4 linked regions of the Homo sapiens genome follow. The protein of the gene in region 1 interacts with the protein of each later gene in a biochemical or structural test. Each region holds a gene or a part of one and is shown on either strand. Other genes may lie near its edges.

What was found. The genes of interacting proteins can lie anywhere in the genome.
Region 2: the proteins of TRPV4 (region 1) and GSG1 interact in a test that uses a peptide from one of them, tested with the Homo sapiens proteins (one large-scale study listed by BioGRID).
Region 3: the proteins of TRPV4 (region 1) and EIF3J interact in a test that uses a peptide from one of them, tested with the Homo sapiens proteins (one large-scale study listed by BioGRID).
Region 4: the proteins of TRPV4 (region 1) and RILPL1 interact in a test that uses a peptide from one of them, tested with the Homo sapiens proteins (one large-scale study listed by BioGRID).

The regions. Positions count from the first base shown.
Region 1 is NC_000012.12:109,798,887-109,802,730, reverse strand, and holds part of TRPV4 (transient receptor potential cation channel subfamily V member 4), read left to right. Parts: intron 1-1,972; coding exon 1,973-2,113; intron 2,114-3,818; coding exon 3,819-3,844. UniProt on the Homo sapiens protein: Non-selective calcium permeant cation channel involved in osmotic sensitivity and mechanosensitivity. Activation by exposure to hypotonicity within the physiological range exhibits an outward rectification.
Region 2 is NC_000012.12:13,086,668-13,090,167, forward strand, and holds part of GSG1 (germ cell-specific gene 1 protein), read right to left. Parts: intron 2,682-3,500; coding exon of another isoform or gene 2,610-2,681; coding exon 2,541-2,609; intron 2,243-2,540; coding exon 2,195-2,242; coding exon of another isoform or gene 2,071-2,194; intron 1,393-2,070; coding exon 1,240-1,392; intron 624-1,239; coding exon of another isoform or gene 597-623; coding exon 485-596; coding exon of another isoform or gene 481-484; intron 1-480. UniProt on the Homo sapiens protein: May cause the redistribution of PAPOLB from the cytosol to the endoplasmic reticulum.
Region 3 is NC_000015.10:44,540,147-44,543,646, reverse strand, and holds part of EIF3J (eukaryotic translation initiation factor 3 subunit J), read right to left. Parts: intron 1-3,500. UniProt on the Homo sapiens protein: Component of the eukaryotic translation initiation factor 3 (eIF-3) complex, which is required for several steps in the initiation of protein synthesis.
Region 4 is NC_000012.12:123,527,220-123,530,719, reverse strand, and holds part of RILPL1 (RILP-like protein 1), read left to right. Parts: intron 1-3,500. UniProt on the Homo sapiens protein: Plays a role in the regulation of cell shape and polarity. Plays a role in cellular protein transport, including protein transport away from primary cilia.

The sequences.
Region 1 (3,844 bases):
TAATCCCAGCACTTTGGGAGGCCAAGGGGGGCAGATCGCTTGAGCCCAGGAGTTCAAGACCAGCATGGGCAACATGGTGAAATCCTGTCTTGACAAAAGATACAAAAAAAAAAAAATAAAATAAAAGAAGGCCAGGTGCGGTGGCTCACACCTGTAATCCCAGCACTTTGGGAGGCTGAGGTGGGCAGATCACTTGAGGTCAGGTGTTCAAGACCAGCCTGGCCAACATGGTGAAACCCTGTCTCTGCTGAAAATGCAAAAATTAGCCAGGCGTGGTGGTGCGCACCTATAATCTCAGCTACTTGGGAGGCTGAGGCAGGAGAATCGCTTGAACCTGGGAGGTGGAGGTTGCAGTGAGCCAATATCGCGCCATTGCACTCCAGCTTGGGCAACAAGAGCAAGACTCATCTCAAAAAAAAAAAAAAGATGCAAAAAAAGCCAGGCTTGTTGGTGCACACCTGTAGTCCCAGCTACTTGGGAGGCTGGGGTGGGAAGATCACTTGAGCTCAGAGGGTCAAGGCTTCAGTGAGCTATGATTGTGCCACTGCACTCCAGCCTGGGTGACAGAGTGAGACCCTGTCTCAAAAAAAAAAAAAAAAAGATTCCAAGATTCTGAGATGCAGCGAGTCTAGTGATCATGAACTCGGGATCTGGCCCTAAGATGCTGTGGTGGCGGATACTCTAAGGCTCTATGATAATAAGTCCTGAGTTCACAAGTTCTAAGAGGCAAAGGCAGCAGGGGGCCAAGAACTGGGCCAATCCCCAGTTGAGATTCTGTAAATCAGAGTTGACCTTCAGATGCCTGGATATTAAGATTCAAAATCCATGAATATTATATCTTGAGTCCAAAATTCTGGGAGGCCAAGGTACTGTTGTTTCCTCTAGGAGTTTTCTTTTTTTTGAGACAAGGTCTTGCTCTGTTACCCAAGCTGGAGTGCAGTGGTGTGATCATGGCTCACTGCAGCCTTGACTTCCTGGGCTCAAGGGAGTCTCCCACCTCACCCTCCCAAGTAGCTGGGACCACCGGCATGGACCACCATGCCAGGCTAATTTTTAAAATTTCTGTAGAGACAGGGTCTCACTATGTTGTTGTATTAGCCCGTTCTCATGCTGCTATAAAGAACTGCCCAAGACTGGATAATTTATAAAGGAAAGAGGCTTAATTGACTCACAGTTCCGCAGGGCTGGGGAGGCATCAGGAAACTTACAATCATTGTGGAAGGGGAAGCAAACATGTCCTTCTTCACATGGTGGTAGGAAGAAGAAGTGCCAAGCAAAAGGGGGAAAAGCCCCTTATAGAATCATCAGATCTCTTGAGGACTCACTCACTATCATGAAAACAGCATGAGGGTAACTGCCCCCATGATTAAATTACCTTTCACAGGGTCCCTCCCATGATACATGGGGATTATGGGAACTACAATTCAAGGTGAGATTTAGGTGTGGACACAGAGCCAAACCATATCAGTTGCCCAGGCTGGTACTGAACTGCTAGGCTTCAGCAATCCTCCTGCCTCAGCCTCTGGAGTAGCTGGGACCACAGGTGTAAGTCACCAGGCCCAGCTAATTTTTAGCATTTCTATAGAGATGGGATCTCACTGTGTTGCCCAGGCTTGCCTCAAACGCCTGGGCTCAGGTGATCTCCCTCCTTGGTCTCCCAAATTGCTGGGATTACAGGCGTGAGCCTGCGCCTGGCCTCCTCTAGGATTTTTAAAGCATCTTATGAATCTAAAAACTTCTCACATTCAGGATTCCACAAACTAGGTATCCTTCAGGCTTGAGATTCTGCTTCTGCGATGGATCCCAGGGAATATCCAAGGACCTATTTGCTGCCCTTGGGTGTCGCTGGGCAGGACTCTGCCTGCATCCCCCACCCCCCAATTTCTACGTCCTGCACCCTACCCCCACCCCCAGCAAGCCTGGCTAGGTCTCTGCTCCGCCAGGACCCTGGATGACCGTCCCCTGCCCCCAGGTCAGACAGCCCTGCACATCGCCATTGAGCGTCGCTGCAAACACTACGTGGAACTTCTCGTGGCCCAGGGAGCTGATGTCCACGCCCAGGCCCGTGGGCGCTTCTTCCAGCCCAAGGATGAGGGGGGCTACTTCTACTTTGGTAAGGAGGGGCCTGGTGGGGGCTGACAGCATGCTGGAGAAGCATGGCGGGAGATAGCATGATACTGGTTGGTGTCTGCAGCCCTGACCATCACCCAGACACCCAGGGCCACTCTGGCCATGAGCGCAGGCAGCACTCTGGACCACAGGCTGCACGTTGGTCTTGGTCACAGGGCCGTTGCCTCTGAGGTGTAAGTGCCATGGGGAGTACCATGGACCTGGATTCAGATCCTCACTCCAGCCAGGCACGGTGTCTCACACCTGTCATCCCAGCACTTTGGGAGGTCAAGGCAGGAGGATCGCTTGAGGGCAGGAGTTTGAGACCAGCCTAGGCAACATAGCAATACCCTGTCTCTTTTAAACATTTAAAAAATGGCTGGGCACGGTGGCTCATGCCTGTAATCCCAGCACTTTGGGAGGATGAGGCAGGTGGATCACCTGAGGTCAAGAGTTCAAGACCAGCCTGGCCAACAAGATGGTGAAACCCATCTCTACAAAAATAACAAAAATTAGCCGGGCATGGTGGTGGGTGCCTGTAATCCCAGCTACTTGGGAGGCTGAGGCAGGAGAATTGCTTGAACCTGGGGGACAGAGGTTGCAATGAGCCGAGATTTCCCCATTGCACTCCAGCTTGGGTGACAGAGTGAGACTCTGTCTCAAAAAATAAATAAATAAATAAATAAATAAATAAGTTAGATGGCATGGTGGCATGTGCTTGAAGTCCCAGCTGCTTGGGAGGCCGAGGCTGGAGGATCACTTGAACCTAGGAGTTCGAGGCTGCAGTAAGCCATGATTGCACCACTGCACTCCAGCCTGGAAAATAGAGCAAGACCCCGTCTTTAAAAAGCAAAAAGAAAAGAACAAAAAAAAAGCCAAATCCTCACTCTGCACTTTCCAGGCATGTGACCTCACTTCCCTGAGCCTCACCTTCCCCAGCTGTGCAGTGGGGATCACGAGAGGCCCTTGGGCTGTGATGTCAGCGCCCAGCTCTGTATTGTCTGTGTGCTTTAATCTGGTTTATGCTGGGACCAACAGCCCCATCACCAGGCCCAAAGCCCACCACTGCCGTTGTCATCACTGGACTCATGAAATATTTTGAATTTTGCCCCTGCTTAAAGGCATTCATTATGTGCAGCTCAGGGACAAAGTCACACAAAGAATTCCATCATCAGCTGGGCGCGGTGGCTCACGCCTGTAATCCCAGCACTTTGGGAGGCCGAGGTCGGCGGATCACTTGAGGTCAGGAGTTTGAGACCAGCCTGGCCAACATGGCGAAATCCTGCCTCTACTAAAAATACAAAAATTAGCCAGGTGTGGTGGCGTGCGCCTGTAATCCCAGCTACTCGGCTGAGGCACAAGAACTGCTTGCACCCGGGAGGTGGAGGTTGCAATGAGCCGAGATTGTGCCACTGCACTCCAGCCTAGGCGACAGAGTGAGACTTTGTCTCAAAAAAAAAAAAAAAAAGAATTCCATCATTGGATGTGTCCAGTCCCTCACAGCCTCCAAATCGCGTGGCTGTGCCCTTAACTAGCCACACCCCATCTCCCTGGCATCACCCAGAGAAACGTGCAGTTCATATCCACTGCTGGTGCTGTCTCCGTCATTATCCTCAGAGCGCCACGGTGTCCGTCCCCCGAGTGTCTGCAGGCAGAGTCCCACCCTGGGCCCCCTTCGCTGACCTCCCACCCTTCACCCTGGCCCGCAGGGGAGCTGCCCCTGTCGCTGGCTGCC
Region 2 (3,500 bases), about 97 Mb from region 1:
ACACGGTTCAGTAGAATAAAAATGGATATAGAAGGAAGTGAAGAGGAGAGGAGTAAGCCATTTACAGAGAATGCAATTCAATCCAAATTTCAAAGCGATTTCTCTATTTCTCTGTTCTCTAATACCTTGAATCATAAAAAAAAGAAAAAAAAAGAGCACATTTCTATAAGGCCTACAGAATCAGTCTTGTTTCCCCAGGGTGACAAATATACCAGGTAAAGAGGCAACTGCCACAGCTGATGAGCAGGAAAACTGGACAAAATAACATCCTCCCAAGACACACTCGAGGAATCCTTCCTGTACCCCCTCAGAAGGCAGGGAAGAATGGATGTGCCCTGATGATGCAGCCCTGTGTGGTTGACAGGCTCTTGGGATGAGGGATGAAGAGAAGGCAGGGCTTCACCGAATAAGCATCTAGCTGAGGGCAGAAAATCTCGTGAAGGTTGGCTGGGGCTACAAAGGTTCAGGAGATGACAGCACTTACTAGAAGGCCCAGCCATAATTCCAAACATGTGGTCTCCAGTCTTCTGGACCCAAGTTGACAGTCGCTTGGAAGACTTGTGAATACATCATGTGGGCCACCATCCCCAGGAGACCTACCAAGGAAACAGGAAGGCAGAGCCCTTAGAGAAAGGCTTTCATGCCATCTGCCAGGAGTACGATTTTGGATCACCCTTCTTGCAGTCAGGCGCAGCCTCTGTTGGAGTAGCCCATTACCCTATGCCACCACATTTCCCGAAGACTAATTCACAATGGGGGCTTCTCCTTAAATACACATCTTTGCAATAGGTGACCCCAGACTGTAGGCTGAGAGCTATGGAAAAAGTCTGAGTCAAGGCTGCACCCAAGGCCACTGCACACCACCCCTACTCCTTCCCACCCACACCCCAATGTTGGCTTAATTCTTCATCTTATATGTGCATCTTTCACTTTATCCAATGGAGACTGGTCTTGAAAAGCTGTGTGTATGTCACAACTGAAAAGTAACCCAAACAATAGATTTTACATATTGAGAAAGCTTGCAAATAAAGGAACCTAGAGGTAAATCATTTTGTAAAGTACACGGTGATCCAATATACAATTTTGTATGTTACTTCAATTTAAAATTAAAGATGCCTACCTCCATTCTTTAAAGAGCCTTTGGGCTCCTCCCCTTCAGGGCAAAGACTCAAGCCCTCCAGCTAGGGCTTCAAAAGTGGCCAGGGCCAACCACCCTCTCTCACTCCAGGAGCAACTCACCTGACAGGACAGAGGAAACAGCAGCAAAGGCGCTCAGTTTGAGCCCACAGGCAGGGTTCCCAGTGAGTAGCAAGTCTGTTAGTAGCAGGAGGAAGCTGATGAATTGAAGTCCGATGTAGGTGATCTGCGTTCCCAGGGATAACCATAGGATTTCTGCCAGAAACCAGAGGAAGAGGGAGCGCTCACCCTGACAGTTAAAAAACTGAATAAGCGGTGAGCATAGGATGCCTATTAGGAGTTAAGACCCTAGCAGCATCTGAGAAGGGGAGAATGAGGCACAGCTGAAACCAGGGAGGAACATTACTTCATTTCTAGTCCTTTGACGTCACTCACAGCTCCCACTCCATAACCAATATATACCCAAGTAAGCTTGACTGACTGTAAATACTGTTGGGGAGATTTGAGAAGAAATCATCGAATTTTCATAAATCCTGCAGGGAAATAATGTTGCTCTAGTTATCATTTTTTGTCTTTTTCCTCATTTAATTTTGGGGTGGTTCCCTCCCTGCCTCCCTTCTTCACTCTTTTCCTTTCATTTTACCAAATAATAATAATAATAGTGGAGAAAAAGGAGGAAAAAGCTAAGCCTTCCTACATGGTTACTTGGCAACAAGAGTAGGTTAGCACTGTTGGTGGTTTTCTATTTGTGAATCTTATTTATCCCTGCTGTTCTGTTTTTGCATTCCTGCATATGAATGAAAGTCAGCTCAAGGAGGAATTTGTGTCACCCTTTGGGGCTCAGAAGAGAAAAGTGGGAGATCACAGTGCAGTTTAGATCCGGAGAGGCCCAAGTCAATGGTAACTACTGTAAATTCCTTATCAGACACATACTTGCCACAAAGCCCCAAGGGAGGGGAGGGGAGGGAAGCCTTCTCCATCAACCGCTTCCCTCCAAATCGGAGAGTGGGGTGACATGGGCCTTGCAACGTGGCAAATTCCAGTAGTCCTTTCTCACCTCTCTTGGCTGGTGGTGTAAGTTCAATGAAACTTCGGCACCTCTCCCCTGAAACATACAAGGTACAACGTCATGGAGCTACTCCCTGGGATGGTTGGAATGAAAACCTTCCCCACCCCATAACTGGTACTGCTCCCTCTGCTCTGACAGCACCTGCCCCGCATAGAGCAGGAAAGCAGGAAAGAATGCCTGGGTGAATGAATGGCACAGCCAAGAGTCAGCCCAGGTGAATTTCTCTCTTCAGTCTCTGATAATGCAGAAGATGTTTCCATGAGAGCACCTACATAGCTTAGTGTTCCCATTTCCCGTGTCCAGAAGAGTTAATGATCTTAGTGTTAACTAATACCTTTTGCTGCCGCTGTACCACTGGACCGAAGGGCTCTAAATTGTTTCCAGGACTGGGGATGGAGCAGTGCTAAGTGGCACAATAATAAATATAAATGTAAATACACACATTTTTTTAATTCCTCTTCCATCTCGCTTTTAGCTGAAATAGGGAGAAGTAGCAGATATCAAATTGTTCATGATTCTGGGCATTAGAAGAACTTTAGTACCAGGTGCTTTCTTCCCAGGCCGGTCACCTTTCAGTGCTCTTGGGCAGGGAAGAGGAGGTGTCTTCAGCTCATTCCTCCAAACCTGAGGAACGCACATCGACCAGCACCTGCCTGCTTTGCTAGTGTGCACTGAGGGGCAGGAGACCTGGCAGATCTGCCTTCAGCTCCTTGAGGGCTCTCTTACATGATCAGTTACCCTGGCTGGCTGGCTTCGGTTCCCCCACTTTTAAATGGTAGCGGTAATACTTAGAATGAGAAAATACTTTGGGGCCAGGAAGAGGCTGTAAGATGATCTGCTGTGATGCTTTCATCTCACAAATGAGCAAATCAAGACCTATAGAAACGAAGTTATAGGCTGGGCATGGTGGCTCATGTCTGTAATCTCAGCACTTTGGGAGGCCGAGGTGGGCAGATCACCTGAGGTCGGGAGTTCGAGACCAGCCTGACCAACATGGAGAAACCCTGTCTCTCTAAAAATACAAAATTAGCCGGGTATGGTGGCACATGCCTGTAATCCCAGCTACTTGGGAGGCTGAGGCAATAGAATCGCTTGAACCTGAGAGGCGGAGGTTGTGGTGAGCCAAGATCACACCATTGCACTCCAGCCTGGGCAACAAGAGCAAAACTCCATATCAAAAGAAAAAAGAAATGAAGTTACTTGTATGAGGTCACAGTTGAGCAGAGCTAGGGCTTTCCTACAATATTCCTCTCCCTTCGTTTTGTTTCTAAACAGCAATTCTAGCTCCCTAGAC
Region 3 (3,500 bases), on another chromosome or scaffold:
AGGTCAAGAGATCGAGACCATCCTGGCCAACATGGTGAAACCCCATCTCTACTAAAAATACAAAAATTAGCTGGGTGTGGTGGCGCACACCTGTAGTCCCAGCTACTTGGGAGGCTGAGGCAGGAGAATCGCTTGAACCCAGGAGGCGGAGGTTGCAGTAAGCCGAGACTGCGCCACTGCCCTCCAGCCTGGAGACAGCGAAACTCCATCTCAAAAAAAAAAAAAAAAAGTGGTTCCTATCAACATGTACCAAGAAGAGCCATGACATCTGCTCCTCAATTCATAAAAGGACCATCCAAACCTTGACTGTCACTCTCTCCCCAAAGTGCTTACAAGTCTGCCCTGAAGTTACTACCAAACTAGCACTAAGCCCCTAAAGAAAGGAGCATAGTAAGTGTCAGCAAAAAGAGACTGGTCACACTTCCAAACAGATGTAATTATAAAAGCAAAAGGCCAGGTAGCTTTCCCCAGGAAGTTAGAGTTTTTGTTTCCATAGTTATAAAATTAAGTGTCTGAAAAGTAGATTTAAGGTAGAATGTTCACCACGCTGCTTCAAAAAATATGCCCAATTTTTTGTAAACATTAGAAGTTTGTAAATTCCAGCAGCAAATTCAGATAAAATGTAAAAAGGCTTCCTAGAGAAACAGCTAAAATTAACACTTAAAATAGGGAGCAAGTCTACAACTCACTTCAAAGAGCCCTAAATGGTTATTTGGTTCAAGAGACTACCTATGAACATCCAATTAAATCCTTTACCCAATTATTTTTGGTAGCCAATTAATCTTTCAACTATAATATCCAATTTATCTTCAAAAGAATCACCCAGGCTGCTCTCCTAAAATGGCTAGCTTCTTAGAATAGGGCCTGTTTATAAACTACTTGCTTATCTATACTCTTGCCCTGCAGATACACACCCATCATTTAAGCTATTTCTATGAAAGAGATGGCTGCTTTTTAACTTTAAAACTTGCTTCCCTAATTGAACACAACTAAGTATCAGAAGCAAAGCAGAAAACTTTATATCTTGCTTTCTTTTTATTTCTAACAATGTGGCCAGTAGTTAGCTGGTTCTGTCTTCATAATATAAAACTACATTATGTCACATGCAATGAGAACACATTTAGGGCTGAAAATGCTTTCCAACTTAAGCAAGATGTATTTATAGATTGTCAAATAGAAGTAGCTTCAAACGAGCAATAAAACTCTTTTGCCCTATAGCAACAGCCTAGGAACTAACATATACTCCTTCTCCTTTTTTCTTTAAATAATTTGGTTTAGGTAAAACATAATCTCTTGCTGGGAAAGAAAAAAAAAGCCTTTAATTTGTGTTCTGTAAGCTGTGCAGTTCTGAGAGAACTCAGAACTGTGCAACGAGATCTTGGCAAGGGTAGACTTCCCAGCAAAGTTCAGTTTTTTAAAAGCCAAAATGTTCTTCCACCATCTCAGAACTATGCTGGGTGCCTAGAAGCCAAGGTGCCTGCCTTAGTAAATTCTACTTCATTTAATTCAATTCATTAAGCTTTTAACATACTACAATGGATCAGCACTCAGCTGAGTTCCATCTCAATGCCTACCTGTCTCATATTCAGGACAGTTATCAATCTACTTTAAATTTCTGGCTCAGCGATATCAAGACACTGAACACTAAACAAGTGGTTTATTTACAATGATCCATCATGACAAGAAAATATTTTTCAATAACAAACATGCTTCCTAATTCAAAACTTGCTAGTTTATAAAAGTGGCAGGGTATGAAATGATATGATTGAGATTTTCTTGAAAATAATCTGGTTGGAGGAGGAAAGTGGGGATACAGAGGAGACAAGACTGGTCACTGGTTTATTAAATGTTTCTCTCTACTGCATGTTTGGAATTTTTCTTAAGTTACACATACACACACTCTCTTCAAAATACCCATTTTCTGGCAAAATGCCCACCTTCTGGGTATTTCCTAGTAATTTCACATTCTGTAAAATACAGATCCTGTTCTTTAGAAGTTGTTTCCAACCCCTGAAAATTGTCCCTATCTGGTAGATTCAAACTATTTATTGGAATAGGATCCTAACAGAGAGTGAATGAGTAGGACGAGAGAGGCTCAACTAAATCTGTTCTTCAGGATCGCTCTCTCTTTAAATGTGTTGGGGTCTTGCTATGTTGCCCAGGCTGGCTTCAAACTCCTAGGCTCACGCAATCCTCTTGCCTCAGCCTCTTCAGGATCTTTTAAAAGAAATGCTATATGGTTACAGAGGCAAATGCGTGAGATGGCTGAACACAGCTATAAGTTTCTGCAAACTCTGTACCCTTTGAATAAATCTAGCTTCTAAACTGTTCTACTGAAATGCTAGGAGACTAGTAAAATGGAGCAAAAGTTATGTTGTCCTTGTGTCCAGTAGGTACTCACTGCCTTCTCAGTCAACACATCCTACATATCATACCAGCAATGAGGAAGGAGTCATATATGCCAAGTGAACAATTCTTCCCACTACCTCTGCACAACTATCAGGATAGTAAAAAAGGTAAATAAAGCCAGGGTGATGGGAAACTATGCTCCCGAGTTCTCATCTTTTTAACTGGGGAAAAGCATAGTCTTTTCTTGCCATATATATTAACGGTTGTACAGTTTCACCTAAGTCCACTTCTGCCACTGCCAGACAGCTATTTGAAAAGTCAAGGACAGCAAAATACTAAGTCTACTAAATGAGAGTAAAGTGCTGGAGCAAATTATAATAACAAAAACATCAGTTTTCCTTTCATTTCCCAGGACATTACAAATGACATTAAACCTGTATTTTTAAAGGTTAAGTACTAGATGCTGACATGAACAGAAGACCTCACGGAAACTAAGCCTTGTCTGCAACTCCTCATAAAAAGTACAAAAACATAAGAATTCAGAAATTTGGTGATATGGCTGAGTCTGCTGGCTCACGCCCATAATCCCAGCATTTTAGGAGGCTGAGGAGGATAGATCACTTGACTCCAAGAGTTCGAGACCAGCCTGGGCAACTTGGCGAAACTCTATCTCTACCAAAAACACAAAAATTAGCCAGTCTCACAAATCTGTCTCAAAATAAATAGGCCAGGTGCAGTGGCTCACACCTGTAATCTCAGCACTCTGGGAGGCCAAGGCGGGAAGATCGCTTTAACCTCAGGAGTTTGAGACCAGCCTGGGCAACTTGGCGAAACTCCACCTCTACCAAAAACACAAAAATTAGCCAGTCTCACAAATCCGTCTCAAAATAAATAGGTCAGGTGCAGTGGCTCACATCTGTAATCCCAGCACTCTGGGAGGCCGAGGCGGGAAGATCACTTTGACCTCAGGAGTTTGAGACCAGCCTAGGTAACATGGCGAAACCCTGTATCTACAAAAAAAAAAAAAAAATATATATATATATATATATATATATATATATAGCCAGGCGCGGTGGCTCACGTCTGTAATCCCAGCACTTTGGGAGGCCGAGGCGGGTGGATCACGAAGTCAGGAGTTCAAGACCGGCCTG
Region 4 (3,500 bases), about 14 Mb from region 1:
AATAAATTCTAGAAAGCAATGGCTGGGCTGATACACTCGCGTGTAACATACCAGACTATGCTATTCATTCACTCATTCAGCGAATATATTTACTGAGAACCTACTGTGTGCCATGCATTGTTCTGGGCACTGGGAAGACAGTAATGACCATGACAGATGAGGCCTTGGCCCTGATGAGCCTGACTTTTTAGTGTAGTGCTATACCATAGAAATATTATGCAGCTTTGCCATGTTAATAAAAAACAGTGAAGTTGGCTGGGCGCGGTGGCTCACACCTGTAATCCCAGCACTTTTGGGGGGCCAAGGCGGGTGGATCACTTGAGGTCAGGAATTCAAGACCAGCTTGGCCAATATGGCAAAACCCCATTTCTACTAAAAATACAAAAATTAGCCGGGCATGGTGGCGAGTGCCTATAATCCCAGCTATTCAGGAAGCTGAGGCAGGAGAATCGCTTGAACCCGGGAGGCAGAGATTGCAGCGAGTCGAAATCACACCATTGCACTCCAGCCTGGGTGACAGAGTGAGACTCTGTCTCAAAAACAACAACAACAACAAACCAGTGAGGTTAATTTTAATATATCTTATGGGACCCAGTAGATCCAAAATATTTTCATTTCAACATGTAATCAGTATAAAAACTTATCATTTGATATTCTGCACTCTTTTTTTCCTACTACATCTTTGAAATCTGGTGTGTCTTTAACCCCTGCTGCACATTTCCACTCAGACCAGCCACATGTCAAATGCTCAACAGCCACGTGTGGCTACTGACTTTCCATGGGATGGTGCAATTATTCTAGCATGAGGAAGAGATAGAGATTTTTTTTCTCCTTTTTTTTTTTTTTGAGTCAGGGACGTACTCTGTCATCCAGGCCAGAGAGCAATGATGGCATCACGGCTCCCTGCAGCCCTGAACACCTGGATTCAAGTGATCCTCCTGCCTCAGCCTCCTGAGTAGCTAAGACTACAGGCACACTGTAATTTTTTTTTCCTTTAGAGACAAGGTGTCACTATGTTGCCCAGGCTAGTCTTGAGCTTTTGGGCTCAAGCAGTCCTCCTGTCTTGTCCTCCCAAAGTGCTGGGACTACAGGTTTGATCCACTGTGCTTAGCCAGGATAGATTAAAAAAAAAAAAAAAATTCAGGCTGGGCACAGTGTTTCACACCTGTAATCCCAGCACTTTGGGAGGCCGAGGCAGCTGGATCACTTGAGGTCAGGAGGTCAAGACCATCCTGGCCAACATGGCAAAACCTCATCCCTACTAAAAATACAAAAATTAGCTGGGTGTGGTGGCGCACGCCTCAGGAGGCAGAGGCAGGAGAATCGCTTGAACCTGGGAGGTGAAGGTTGCGTTGAGCCGAGATCATATCACTGCACTCCAGCCTGAGCAACAGAGCGAGACTTTGTCTCAGAAAAAAAAAATCAGCTTATAATAAGTGCCATAAAGAAAATAAAACTGGGAGACATGAAAGAGACTGACTAGGGTGGTAGTCTAACAGATGGGGCAGTCAGGAAGTCTTCCCTGAGGAGGTGACATCTGAGCTGAGATCTGAATGAAGGATAGGATCCAGCCACAGATTGATCTGGGGGAGAGGCATTCTAGGCAGAAGACGTGGCTAGTGCAAAGGTCCTGAGGTAGGAATGCACTTGGCATGTTCAAAGAACACAGAGTCGGTGTGGCTGGAGCAGAGCAAGTGAGGAAGAGGACTGGGAGATGAATCAGGAAGGTGCCGGGGCTTGTAGGCTCAGATGAGGAATTTGAGGACTCTTGGTGCTGAGGGAAGAACGTGAAGGAGATGATTGATCAGGGCTGACTTCTCCGGAGAACCACTGGGCTGGTATGGAGGCAGCATGAGATTCTGAGTGGTCAACTCAGAGGCGAGAATCAGCAACCCCAGCATCAACTTCAGTTCGTTGAGAGAAGAAAAAAAAAGAATTTAGGGTTAAAGTCTGTATTCATTCCCTGTGGCTGCTGTAACAAATCAACACAAACTGGTCGGGCGCGGTGGCTCAAGCCTGTAATCCCAGCACTTTGGAGGCTGAAGCGGGCGGATCACAAGGTCAGGAGATCGAGACCATCCTGGCTAACACGGTGAAACCCCGTCTCTACTAAAAATACAAAAAATTAGCCGGGCGTGGTGGCGGGCGCCTGTGGTCCCAGCTACTTCGGAGGCTGAGGCAGGAGAATGGCATGAACCCGGGAGGCGGAGCTTGCAGTGAGCCGAGATCGCACCACTGCACTCCAGCCTGGGTGACAGAGTGAGACTCCGTCTCAAAAAAAAAAAACAAACAACAACAAAAAAATCAACACAAACTTAGTGGCTCAAAACAGCAGAAATGTGTTATCTTTTTTTTTTTTTTGAGACAGCATCTCACTCTGTTGCCCAGGCTGGCGTGCCGTGCGTGACCATTGGCTCACTGCAGCTTCAGCCTCCTGGGCTCAAGCAATCCTCCCGCCTCAGCTTCCCAAGTAGCTCAACTGCAGGCATGTGCCACCACACCCAGCTTAATTTTTAGCAGAGATGGGGTCTTGCCATGTTGCCCAGGCTGGCTGCAGACTCCTGGGCTCAAGTGATTCTCCTGCCTCAGCCTCCCAAAGTACTAGAATTACAGGCGTGACCCACCATGCCTGGCCAGAAATGTATTGTCTTATTGAACTGGATAATCCAATATTATGGATACAATGTCATACAGTATTATGGAGGCATATGTGTAATTATCAATATAAATAATACTGGAGAAATTTCCGGACGTCAGAAGTCGGAAATGGCTCTCACTGAGTTCAAATCAAGGTGTTGGGAAGGCTCCACTCCTTTGGGGGGCTGTGGAGGAGGATCCATTTCTTTGCCTTCCCCAACTTATGGACTCTGCATTCCCTGGCTTGTGGCCCCTTCCTCCATCTTCAAAGCCAGCAGCGTAGCTTCTTCCCATCTCCCTCATATTCCTCTAACGCTGACCTGCCTTCCTCTTACGAAGACCCTGGCATGACATCGGCCCACCAGATAATCCAGCCAGATAATCCAGAATCATCTCCCCATCTCACAAGCTCTTTTTTTTGAGACACAGTTTCAGTCTGTCACCCAGGCTGGAGTGCAGTGGCATGATCTCGGCTCACTGCAACCTCTGCTTCCCTCAGCTCACTGTAACCTCTGCCTCCCAGGTTCAAGTGATTCTCATGCCTCAGCCTGCTGAGTAGCTAGGATTTCAGGTGCACGCCACCATGCCCAGCTAATTTTTGTATTTTTAGTAGACAGAGTTTTGCTGTGTTGTCCAGGCTGGTCTCGAACTCCTGACCTCAAGTGATCCTCCTGCCTTGGCCTCCCAAATTGCTGTGATTATAGGCGTAAGCCATCATGCCCAGCCTCAAGAGCCTTTTTTATAAAAAAAAAAAGTTGGGGTCTTGCTCTGTCACCCAGGCTGGAGTGCTGTGGTGCAATCACAGCTCACTGCAGCCTCAACCTCCGGGGCTCAAGTGATCCTCCCACCTCAGCCTCCCAAGT